Regions from separate parts of the Homo sapiens genome. Here region 2 is linked to region 1. Evidence: fine-mapped expression QTL. A gene starts in region 1. The other region holds a variant in brackets. All regions are shown on one strand. Distances are from middle to middle.

Region 1 (5,374 bases):
TTTTCTATATACATAAAGCAATAGGGGGCACCACAAATGTTCTCTAGCCAGACTTCCAGACCCTGTCTTCCAAAGCGAAACTCCGGAAGCTGAGGCATAAAATAACACAGAAATAGTCAAATGGCATCAGTCACTAAGACCTTCTGATTTTGCTGCTTTAAATATAACTCCAACTTGCTCCCACCTCCCTCTCTTTTTCCCTGCCAGTGACCTAATTCAGAACCTCTTCACCTCTCTAGTCTCTACTTTTAACAACTTTAAAACACTAGACAGTAAGTAAAACAGTGATGAGAAATGTAAGTGCTCCTTCCTCTTGCTTTACACGTATGTAGTCGGGATCTTTTCCTGCTATATTAAAGGGGTAGGGGTTGCTAGAGACCAAATTTTGCCTCTTCCAGAAATGCTCCATAACTGTGCTAGTTCTTAGGTGAATTCTCTGCCTCTGCCACAGTTCTATGTAGTCAATAGAATGCCAGGCTAAGATTCACACTACCTTGCTCTGCCACCACATCTGTGACCTCAAGCTTCTCTTTCAATGGTCCTATGAAAGGAGTGATTCCACATGAAATAGGTTGTCTCAGGCACTACTACTAGAAATCTTATTTCATGACTGACTGCTTGCCACATTAGCACATCATGTCTGATAGGTTCAATTCTGAATTTATGATTTTTAACTTCTACTTCTTTATCCAACCAAACCAATTCTCCTTCTTGTACTCCTTACTGTGGGAAAGACATCACCTTCTACCAGAAACCTGGAGACTTCCTCAACTCCTTACACTCCACATAATCAGTCACCAAGTTTAAAAATATTCCCCTAGTTGGTCCCGCCTTCCCAAGCCCACTTTTAATGCACTAAAAACTCACCATCACTCCCTTTAACTGCAGACTGGCTCTCCCTGGCTTCCAGTCTTGCTCTTACACCAATGTATTCCTCACCCTACTGGCTGATTGGGGTTTTTACAATAAAAACCTGATAATGACCGGGCGCGATGGCTCACGCCGTTATCCCAGCACTTTGGGAGGCTGAGGCGGGTGGATCACCTGAGGTCGGGAGTTCGAGACCAGCCTGACCAACAATGGAGAAACCCCGGCTCTACTAAAAATACAAAATTAGCCGGGTGCGGTGGCACATGCCTGTAATCCCAGCTACTAGGGAGACTGAGGCAGGAGAATCGCTTGAACCCGGGAGGCAGAGGTTGCAGTGAGCCGAGATCATGCCATTGCACTCCAGCCTGGGCAACAAGAGCAAAACTCCATCTCAAAAAAAACAAAAACAAAAACAAAAACAAAAAAAAAACTGACAATGTCATTCTTTCTTAGAACCCTTTAGTTATTTTCCAGTGATACAAAATAAAATCTTGACTCTTAGCTTGCCTTACATCTTGCCCCTCCTAACTTTTCCAGACTAGTCTCCAGTTCCTCCCATTACGTCAGCAGTAGTCAATCCAGCTCCATCAACACCATTCCCTATTGAGCCTGTGACCCAGCCTATTTTGCCTCTGGCCTGAGATCACCTTTTTCACTTTAGTTTCTTATTCAAGACACTGGCATTTCAAACTGACGGGTTTTTTTGAACTCCGTTCACTGTGGTATTGTGGCACCAGTCCACACCTCTAACAGGGCACTAATAACAATAGGTTTGTTTACATGTCACCTCCTCCTCCAGAATGTAAGTTCTTCTCAGTAAACTTTTTATGCCCAATGCCCACAATGGCTTAGAGCATAATAGGGTTTCTTAGGCATTTAATAAATGTTAATTGAATAAATTTGGTTAAAGAGATTATTGTATAAGAAATATGCAGGGGAGTTGAAACATACGACCTCCAAAGTCCTTTCCAACTTAGACTTTCATTGAAGGATATCAGTCCCTTCCATGTTTTTGAATATCACATCTATGTATGACTATGTATACATATGTATATGTATACATGTATGGCTATGTATGACTCCCAGAGCCATAATTTCAAAGCTCTCAATCTGAGCTTTCGACTAAAATATCCATCTGCCTGTTACATAGCTTCACTTATTATCTAAGTTGGCATCTCAAATTCAATACGTCCAAAATTAACTTACTTTCCCACACAACTTGTTCCACCTTAGCAGTTTTTTGTATTTGCTAATGACACCATTGTCCTTTCAGGGACTGCTGTTAAAAACATCCTACATGGCCACTCTCTTCTAAAATAAATCACTGCGTAGACCTCTGCATTCCTCTTTCCTAAAATTCTTTTTGTCGTTCCATAGGCTTACAGTCTCCATCAAACTGCTTGTGACTCTAATTAGCACTTACTTCATTCTGACTTGCATGCTATATTTCCATCTCTGTTCCACATTTCAAGATTTCTGTAGATAGACAGCAGGTGCTCAACAACTCCTTGTAGAATGGCTGCATGAAGGTTGGGATGTTAGGTTTAAATTGCCTTTGCGGCACGGATCTTGTTTTACACTTTTTTGTCCCCCACCCCCCGCCATAAAAAGAGCAGAGAAAACAGGGAACACATATATTAAAAACTGAACACTGCATCTATTATTCTAACTCGGAGCTGTTGCAACAACTGGCGGCAGTTTTAACAAAACAAGCCACGCTCTGCCATTAAAAAAAAAAAAAAAGTCCCTTAGACTCAGCTCCCAGCTAAAACAACCCAGGATCCAGGTTTCCCACCCCCTTCCAGTGGTCTGATGTGCGTCGGAGGAGCGAGGAGAAAGGAGCAAGGAGCAAGCTGGGCCTGAGGAGCAGGGAGCGCGGGATGGGGGACGTCCCGGAAGTCACTGACGAGCTGGCTGCCGCCTCTGCGGGATCAGTTTGGGCTGAGGGCCCAACAATAACAGGCGCCCGGGCCGGGCGGGGGCCGCGGGGATCCGAAGCTGGAGGGCGGGACCTGGATTGGAGGAGGCGGGTGGGACGCCTCCAAAGGCCGAAGGGGATTGGAAGAGGGAGGTAAGGGGCGGTGGAGCTCGAGGAATGGGCCGGAGAACTAGCGGGTCGAGCGAGGAGCGAGCATGCTGATTGGGTTTCGCGGAAGGAGACGGACCAGAGCTGGCCGAGGATTGGCCGCGGTGCCTAGGGGGCGTGGCCGGCGCGCGCGAGAGGGAGCGCGAGGGAGCTGGCTGCGGGCCTGCCTGCCAGCTAGCCGGAGCCGCGGGTGAGCGCGGCGAGCGGCGACCCTGGTGAGGAGCGCGGCGCGGGAGGCACGTTCCTTAGCTCCGCCGCGGCCGTCCTCCGCGGCTCGAGGACTCCGCTTCCTTCCCTCCCCTCCCCTGCGCTCCGGCCTGGGGTCTCGGCGCGGGGAGCGGAGGGAAGGGACGAAGGAGGAGTAGGTGAAAGCGGGGTGAGGGGCGGAAGGGTCCCGGCGCGGGGTGAGGCGAGGGCTGCCTCTTGTTCTCCCGCCGCTGCCGCCGTCTCCTGGTCGGGTGCCGCGGCCAGAGGCGCGCGGGGCTGCCGAGGCACCCGCACTATGCAGGCAGACTGCCGGCCGCCGCGATGGCGAGCCGGGCGGTGGTGAGAGCCAGGCGCTGCCCGCAGTGTCCCCAAGTCCGGGCCGCGGCCGCCGCCCCCGCCTGGGCCGCGCTCCCCCTCTCCCGCTCCCTCCCTCCCTGCTCCAACTCCTCCTCCTTCTCCATGCCTCTGTTCCTCCTGCTCTTACTTGTCCTGCTCCTGCTGCTCGAGGACGCTGGAGCCCAGCAAGGTGAGTGGTCCCAGGGGAGTGAGCGGCGGGGGAACCTCCGTCGGGGCTGCGGGTCTCTTGGCCCCTGAACAAATCTGCAGACGCTGCAGGGAGGCGCGGTGCGCTTTCGTGCGTGGCCGGACCTGGCTGGGTACTCACGGGGTTGAGTTGCAAAGGCAAGGTCTTGCCCGTCTGTCCCCCAAGTTGGCGCGGCTTTACTTTTTGGCAAGGCCATTTATTTTTCTGAAAGGGGGACGTGAGACCCTGCTATGAAAGCCTCGTTGATATTAGGTCCTTCTGGGGAAAATTTTGGGGAGGAAAAAGAACCTTTGGAGGTAATGACCCCTAAAGTTAAGCTGCACGGATGGATGGACACTGTAGGAAGGCAGGTTAATTAAATAGCATCTTAAGCCTATTAAAGGTAAGTGGTGGTAATTATGATCCTTTGTGAAAGAGCCCGGGTTCTGAAGCGAATGGAATAGTTTCTGCTTATCTCTGAGTCTTGGATTCAGAACATGTTCTTTACAATCCATCATTGAGGCTGGTGGTCTAGACTGCCTTGGTCAAACACTGGGTCTGACCCAACGCTATGCTAATTTGCCCAAGTGAAGCTCTCCACATTAAAAAGGTAAGCCTTTCCAGAAAGTGACAAAACTTTTTTTTTTTTCCACCTACAATCCTTGAAAAACCTGTTCCAGAAACAGGCAAAACTGTTTATTAAATACTTATCATAATGGAAGGAGAATGCAGGGTGATTTCTTTTCCCCTTTAGTACTGTTTTCCCGTAGTGTACCACACTTTTTGAATCAGTTTGGCATCAGTTTTTGAAAAGATATTTCCATTGCATTTTCCATTTTATTGCAGTGGGAAGGATAAGGATTGGATTGTTACTTATTGCTAGGAAGAGAGTTTTTTAAAAAGAAAATTGTTCTCTGCCTTTAAGCCCAGCTTTATGTTGCTCTCATGGTTTTCAGTGAAGTATGGAATCATGGCCTGTCATTAAGAAGATGCCGAACCTTGACAGGCATGTGGAAATATAATCTCTGTAACTATAAGGAAAAAATGTATTTGGCAAACTGACCCCTTACATCTAGACACGTTTCTATATAGAGTAACTCAAAATTTAGATGCTTAGCATTTAGGTTTTAGTTAGATCGTCTTCTAAAATTACTGAACATCATCATCATTTAATATATTAAAGTGTGAAATCCTTCTTTCCACTGTAGAGATGTATTTCCCTCCTGGTAGGGGGGAAAACAGGCTTATATATGGCTAACACTTAGGGCTTACTTTGTGGCTGGAACAACTGGACTAAGTGGTTTGGGTTTATTAACTCCTTGAATCTTCACTACAATCAGCTGAGATAGTTATTGTTATCCCAGTTCAAACGTAAGGACATTGAGACACAAAGAATATAAGGTACCTTGATGCAGGAGGGCATATTACTCCATAGGCAGAGTACTCTGCTTTGCTTGTTTCTGGATCTGATAGTGTTTGTATCATGTTATTAAAAAAAATCTTGGAACAGTATAGAATCAGTTACATGTCTACCTTCCAAATGAGGGATTGCCTTGTTTTTAGAAAAGGCCAGTCTACCGGGCGCGGTGGCTCACACCTGTAATCCGAGCACTTTGGGAGGCTGAGGCGGGCAGATCACGAGGTCAGGAGATCGAGACCATCCTGACCAACATGGTGAAACCCCGTCT
Region 2 (5,374 bases), 67 kb after region 1:
CAGCCCCCCGCCCGGCCAGCCGCCCCGTCCGGGAGGTGGGGGTGTCAGCCCCCCTGCCCGGCCAGCCACCCCGTCCGGGAGGTGAGGGGCGCCTCTGCCCGGCCGCCCCTACTGGGAAGTGAGGAGCCCCTCTGCCCGGCCAGCCGCCCCGTCCGGGAGGGAGGTGGGGGTGTCGGCCCCCCGCCCGGCCAGCCGCCCCGTCCGGGAGGGAGGTGGGGGGGTCGGCCCCCTGCCCGGCCAGCCACCCCGTCCGGGAGGGAGGTGGGGGTGTCGGCCCCCCGCCCGGCCAGCCGCCCCGTCCGGGAGGGAGGTGGGGGGGTCGGCCCCCTGCCCGGCCAGCCACCCCGTCTGGGAGGGAGGTGGGGGTGTCGGCCCCCCGCCCGGCCAGCCGCCCCGTCCGGGAGGGAGATGGGGGGGGTCAGCCCCCCCGCCCGGCCAGCCGCCCCGTCCGGGAGGTGAGGGGCGCCTCTGCCCGGCCGCCCCTACTGGGAAGTGAGGAGCCCCTCTGCCCGGCCAGCCGCCCCGTCCGGGAGGGAGGTGGGGGGGTCAGCCCCCCGCCCGGCCAGCCGCCCCCTCCGGGAGGGAGGTGGGGGTGTCGGCCCCCCGCCCGGCCAGCCGCCCCGTCCGGGAGGGAGGTGGGGGGGTCGGCCCCCTGCCCGGCCAGCCACCCCGTCCGGGAGGGAGGTGGGGGTGTCGGCCCCCCGCCCGGCCAGCCACCCCGTCCGGGAGGGAGATGGGGGGGTCAGCCCCCCCGCCCGGCCAGCCGCCCCGTCCGGGAGGTGATGGGCGCCTCTGCCCGGCCGCCCCTACTGGGAAGTGAGGAGCCCCTCTGCCCGGCCAGCCGCCCCGTCTGGGAGGTGTGCCCAACAGCTCATTGAGAACGGGCCAGGATGACAATGGCGGCTTTGTGGAATAGAAAGGCGGGAAAGGTGGGGAAAAGATTGAGAAATCGGATGGTTGCGGTGTCTGTGTAGAAAGAAGTAGACATGAGAGACTTTTCATTTTGTTCTGGATCTCAAATTTCATAACGCATGGGCCCTTTTCACCAAAAAATAATTTCCATGGGTTCCAATTGAGTAGCATTAACTGTGGAACTAACGTTCCATGTTATACAAATTTCATCCACAGACTTCCACCTCTGGCAATTACTAACTGGTACCAGATCTACCCTCCTCTGCCACTGTAAACAATCAGAAAACTGAGCAAAATATTGGAGGCAACCATTTTCAGGCAAGGGACAACAGGCAGTGCAGAACCAGAGCACCTGCCGGCAGGGAAGCAGCTGGTAAATATGTGGATACATACAAAACAGCAGCTTTTCTTTTGTCCTCTTAATTTCCTTAAGATGCAAGTGGCTATTTAAAATAATAATATTGCAAGGTGAGGTTTACATACACACACACATACACACACACACAGGAGGACTGATTTATTACTATAAAATGGTGAAATCTATACATAAGTTCAAAAGAATTTAGATTCTCCTCAATGTGAATAAACAAAAATTTAAAAATCTTAAAAAAAAAAAAAAAGAAAGAAAGGAAGGAAGAAAGAAAGAAAGAAAGAAAAATTCATCTCCTCCCCTCATATAAGCACCAAATAATTATAGTAGCATATGGAGTGGCCAGGCGTGGTGGCTCACGCTATAATCCCAGCAGTTTGGGAGGCCAAGGTAGGTGAATCACCTGAGGTCAGGAGCTTGAGACCAGCCTGGCCAACATGGTGAAACCCTGTCTCTACTAAAAATACAAAAATTAGCCAGGCATGGTGGCACGTGCCTGTAGTCCCAGCTACTCGGGAGGCTAAGACGAGAGAATCGCTTGAATCCGGGAGGCAGAAGTTGCAGTGAGCCGAGATTGCACCATTGCACTCAAGGCTGGGCAACAAAAAAGAAACTCTGTCTCAAAAAAAAAAAAAGAAGAAAAAAAAATAGCATACGGAGTGAGAGGATGGATAAGTGAACCTGGCACATATTTGGTGCTCAATAGATGTTTACTGAGTGAAGAATAATTAAATGGCAAGAAAATAGTTATCTTAGAAGAACAAATGAGAAGGGAATCATTTCTGGCTGGGGACACCCAGGAGTTGACATTTGAATTTGACCTTGAACAGTGGGTAGGATGCTTTTGGTGATGAGAAACCCATTCTAGGTAAGGGAGGAATGCCAGGAAAGAGTAGGGACTTAAGAATGTGCGAGTATGCCGGGCGCGGTGGCTCCTGCCTGTAATCCCAGCACTTTGGGAAGTTGAGGCGGACAGATCATCTGAGTTCAGGAGTTCGAGACCAGCCTGACCAACATGGTGAAACCCCATCTCTCCTAAAAATACAAAATTACCCAGGTGTGGTGGCACATGCCTGTAATCCCAGCTACCTGGGAGGCTGAGGCAGGAGAATCGCCTGAACCTGGGAGGCAGAGGTTGCAGTGAGCCAAGATAGGGCCATTGCACTCTAGCCTGGATGACAGAGCAAAACTCTGTCTCAAAAAAATAAAAAAAAAAAAGAATGTGCAAGTTTATAGCAGAAGGGCTGGTGGCCTATTGGGATGGAAAATTTAAAGACAAGCAGTAGGAATCAGTTGGGATTATGACAGGCAGCTTTGGGTTTGAAAAAGGAAGTTCCAGATGTCAAAGCAGTTCAGACTGAGGGGAGGCTTTTAACTTTTTAGGATAACATCTATAAGTTTCAATATATGGAAAAGATATCTGCACTCCCATCTTTATCGCAGCACTATTCACAATAGCTAAAATATAGAATCAATCTAAGTATCCATCAATGGATGAGTGAATAAAGAAAAGGTGATGTATACACAATGGAATATTATTCAGCAATGAAAAAGAATGAGATCCTGTCATTTGCAGCAACAGGCATGGAACTGGAAGTCACTGTGTTGTGAAATAAGCCAAGCATGGATAAGCAAATATCACATGTTCTCACTCATATTTGGGAGCTAAAAACGTAAATCTCATGAAGTTAGAGAATAGACTGGTGGTTACTGGAGGCTGAAAGGGGAGGAGGTGGGGGGATGAAGAGAGGTTGATTAATGGGTACAAATATACAGTTTGATAGAAGAAATAAGACCTGGTGTTTGATAGATCAGTAAGGTGACTATGGTTTACAATAATCTGTTGTATATTTTGAAATAGCTAGAAGGGAATAAAGCAAATGTTTTAGCATAAAGAAAAGTATTCAAGGTGATGAATATCCCAATTACACTGATTTGATCTTTGTGAATTCTATGAATGTATTAAGTTATCATATGTACTCCCCAAAATAGGTACATCTATTATGTATCAATAAAAAAATTTAAAACAAAAAAAAAAAAAAAA[AAG/G]AAAACAACTCTACTCACAGAGAATGGAAAAAAGCAAAGCAGGACAACCACCCACTCAGGAACGACACAGGGCCAGAGGAGCCTCCCCCACCCAGGGAAGTGGTGCTGGAAAATCCGAGGTGACTGGGGACCAGAGCAGGCCCCTAGTTTACTGGAGTAGTCATGGAAAAGTGGCCAGACTGTTTCTTACATGGGTCTCCACTCCCATATCTCCTCACTGGGCAAGTCCTCCAGGCTTGGGTTTCCAGCCTCCCTTCACTGGGACTTTGGAGCCAGTAGCAGCTCTGCAGCAACCTGGGACAGAGCTCCCACTGGGAGGGTGGTGTTTCCATCTTTTCTGCCTTGCAGCCCTCACCTTTGCTGTTTCCAGGCTCTGGAGAGTCCATGGGACTGAAGCCTGGTCTGAACCCCAAGCACAGTACCCATCTCACCAAAAAGTGGTCAGACGGTTCTCCATGTAGATCCTGGTCCTCACTTCTCCTCACTGGACAGGGCTGCCTGACCTGGGACTCCAGCACAACCACTGTACCCCCACCTGACCACTTCAATTAGAGGCAGCCCAGCAGTTAAAGGAACACCCACACAGAGAGATGAGAAAGAACTAACACAAGAACTTCAGCAATTCAAATGGCCAGAGTGTCTTATGTCCTCCTAACGATTGCACTAGTTCACCAATGAGGGTTCTTAACCAGGCTGAGTTGGCTGAAATGACAGAAATAGAATTCAGAATATGCACAGGAATGAAGAGCATCGAGATTCAGGAGAATGGCAAAACCCAATTCAAGGAAACTAAGAATTAACAATAAAACAATACAGGAGCTGGCAGATAAAATAGCCAGTGCAAAAAAGAATCTAACTGACCTGATAGAGCTGAAAAACACACTACAAGAATTTCACAACCCAATTGCAAGTATTAACAGCAGAATAGACCACGCTGAGGAAAGAATCTTGGAACTTGAAGACTGGCTCTCTGAAATAAGAGAGTCAGACAAAAGTAAAGAAAAAAAGAATGAAAAGGAATGAATAAAACCTCTAAGAAATAAGGGATTATATAAAGAAGCCAAATCTGCAAATCACTGATATCCCTGAATTGGATGGGGAGAAAGCAAACAACTTGGAAAACATATTTCAGGATATCATCTATGAAAATTTCCCCAGCCTCGCTAGAGAGGCCAACAGTCAAAATTCAGGAAATACAGAGAACCCCTGCAAGATTCTACACAAGATCTCCCCAAGACACATAATCATCAGATTTTCCAATGTCTAAATAAAAGAATGTTAAAGGCAGCTAGAGAGAAAGGGCAGATCACCAACAAAGGGAACCCCATCAGGCTAGCAACAGACCTCTCAGCTGAAACCCTGCAAACTGGAAGAGATTGGGGACCTATATTTGACATTCTTAAAGGAAAAAAATCTTCAAGAATTTCATAACCAGCCAAACTAAGCTTCCTTAGCAAAGGAGAAATAAGATTCTTGTCAGATAAGCAAATGCTAAGCGAGTTCATTACCACCAGACCCACCTTTCAAGACATCTTGAAGCTAGCACTAAATATGGAAAAGAAAAACCATTAAAACACCACTAGGAAAATACACTCAAGTACACACACCAGTGACACTATAAAGGAACCACACAAACAAGCCAGCATAATAATCAGCTAACAACACAATGACAGGATCATATGCACACATATCAATACTACCCTTGAATGTAAATAGCCTAAATGCCCTATTTAAAAAGGCATAGAGTGGCATGCTGAATAAAAAAGCAAGACCCAATGATACGCCGTCTTCAGGAACCCATCTCACATGCAATGACATCCATAGGCTCAAAATAAAGGGATGGAGGAAAATCTAACAAGCAAATGGAAATCAGAAAAATGCAGGCATTGCAACCCTAATTTCAGACAAAACAGACTTTAAACGAACAAAGCTCAAAAAAGACAAGGGCATTACATAATGTAAAGCATTCAGTTCAACAAGAATACCTAACTATTCTAAATATATATGCACTCAACACAGGAGCACCCAGATTCATAAAGCAAGTTC

Alleles and levels. Positions count from the first base shown, and alleles are read on the strand shown. Sizes are in standard deviations (SD) of each study's normalised expression.
For the expression in monocytes after LPS of the gene that starts at base 3,116 in region 1, AAG is the high allele of the variant in region 2 and G is the other (moderate effect, 0.74 SD a copy in Fairfax 2014).

Evidence for each region. PIP is the estimated chance that this variant, and not a neighbour inherited with it, causes the effect.
Region 2: its variant is the best candidate, but not a certain one, in a credible set for the expression of DCBLD2 in monocytes after LPS (Fairfax 2014, PIP 0.80).

The regions. Positions count from the first base shown.
Region 1 is chr3:98,899,437-98,904,810 of GRCh38, reverse strand. DCBLD2 (discoidin, CUB and LCCL domain containing 2) reads left to right here and starts at 3,116. Exons shown (of 16, transcript NM_080927.4): 1 at 3,116-3,689. The coding sequence starts at 3,485. LOC105374002 (a long non-coding RNA gene) reads right to left here and starts at 2,797. Exons shown (of 2, transcript NR_189121.1): 1 at 2,294-2,797. RefSeq lists silencers at 2,798-2,847, 2,988-3,677 and enhancers at 2,785-3,500, 3,501-4,217.
Region 2 is chr3:98,832,097-98,837,470 of GRCh38, reverse strand. All of the region lies in intron 3 of DCBLD2 (discoidin, CUB and LCCL domain containing 2), which reads left to right. Among named protein-coding and RNA genes, the nearest start is that of DCBLD2, 67 kb to the left of the region's middle. The variant AAG/G (reference allele first, on the strand shown) is at 3,327.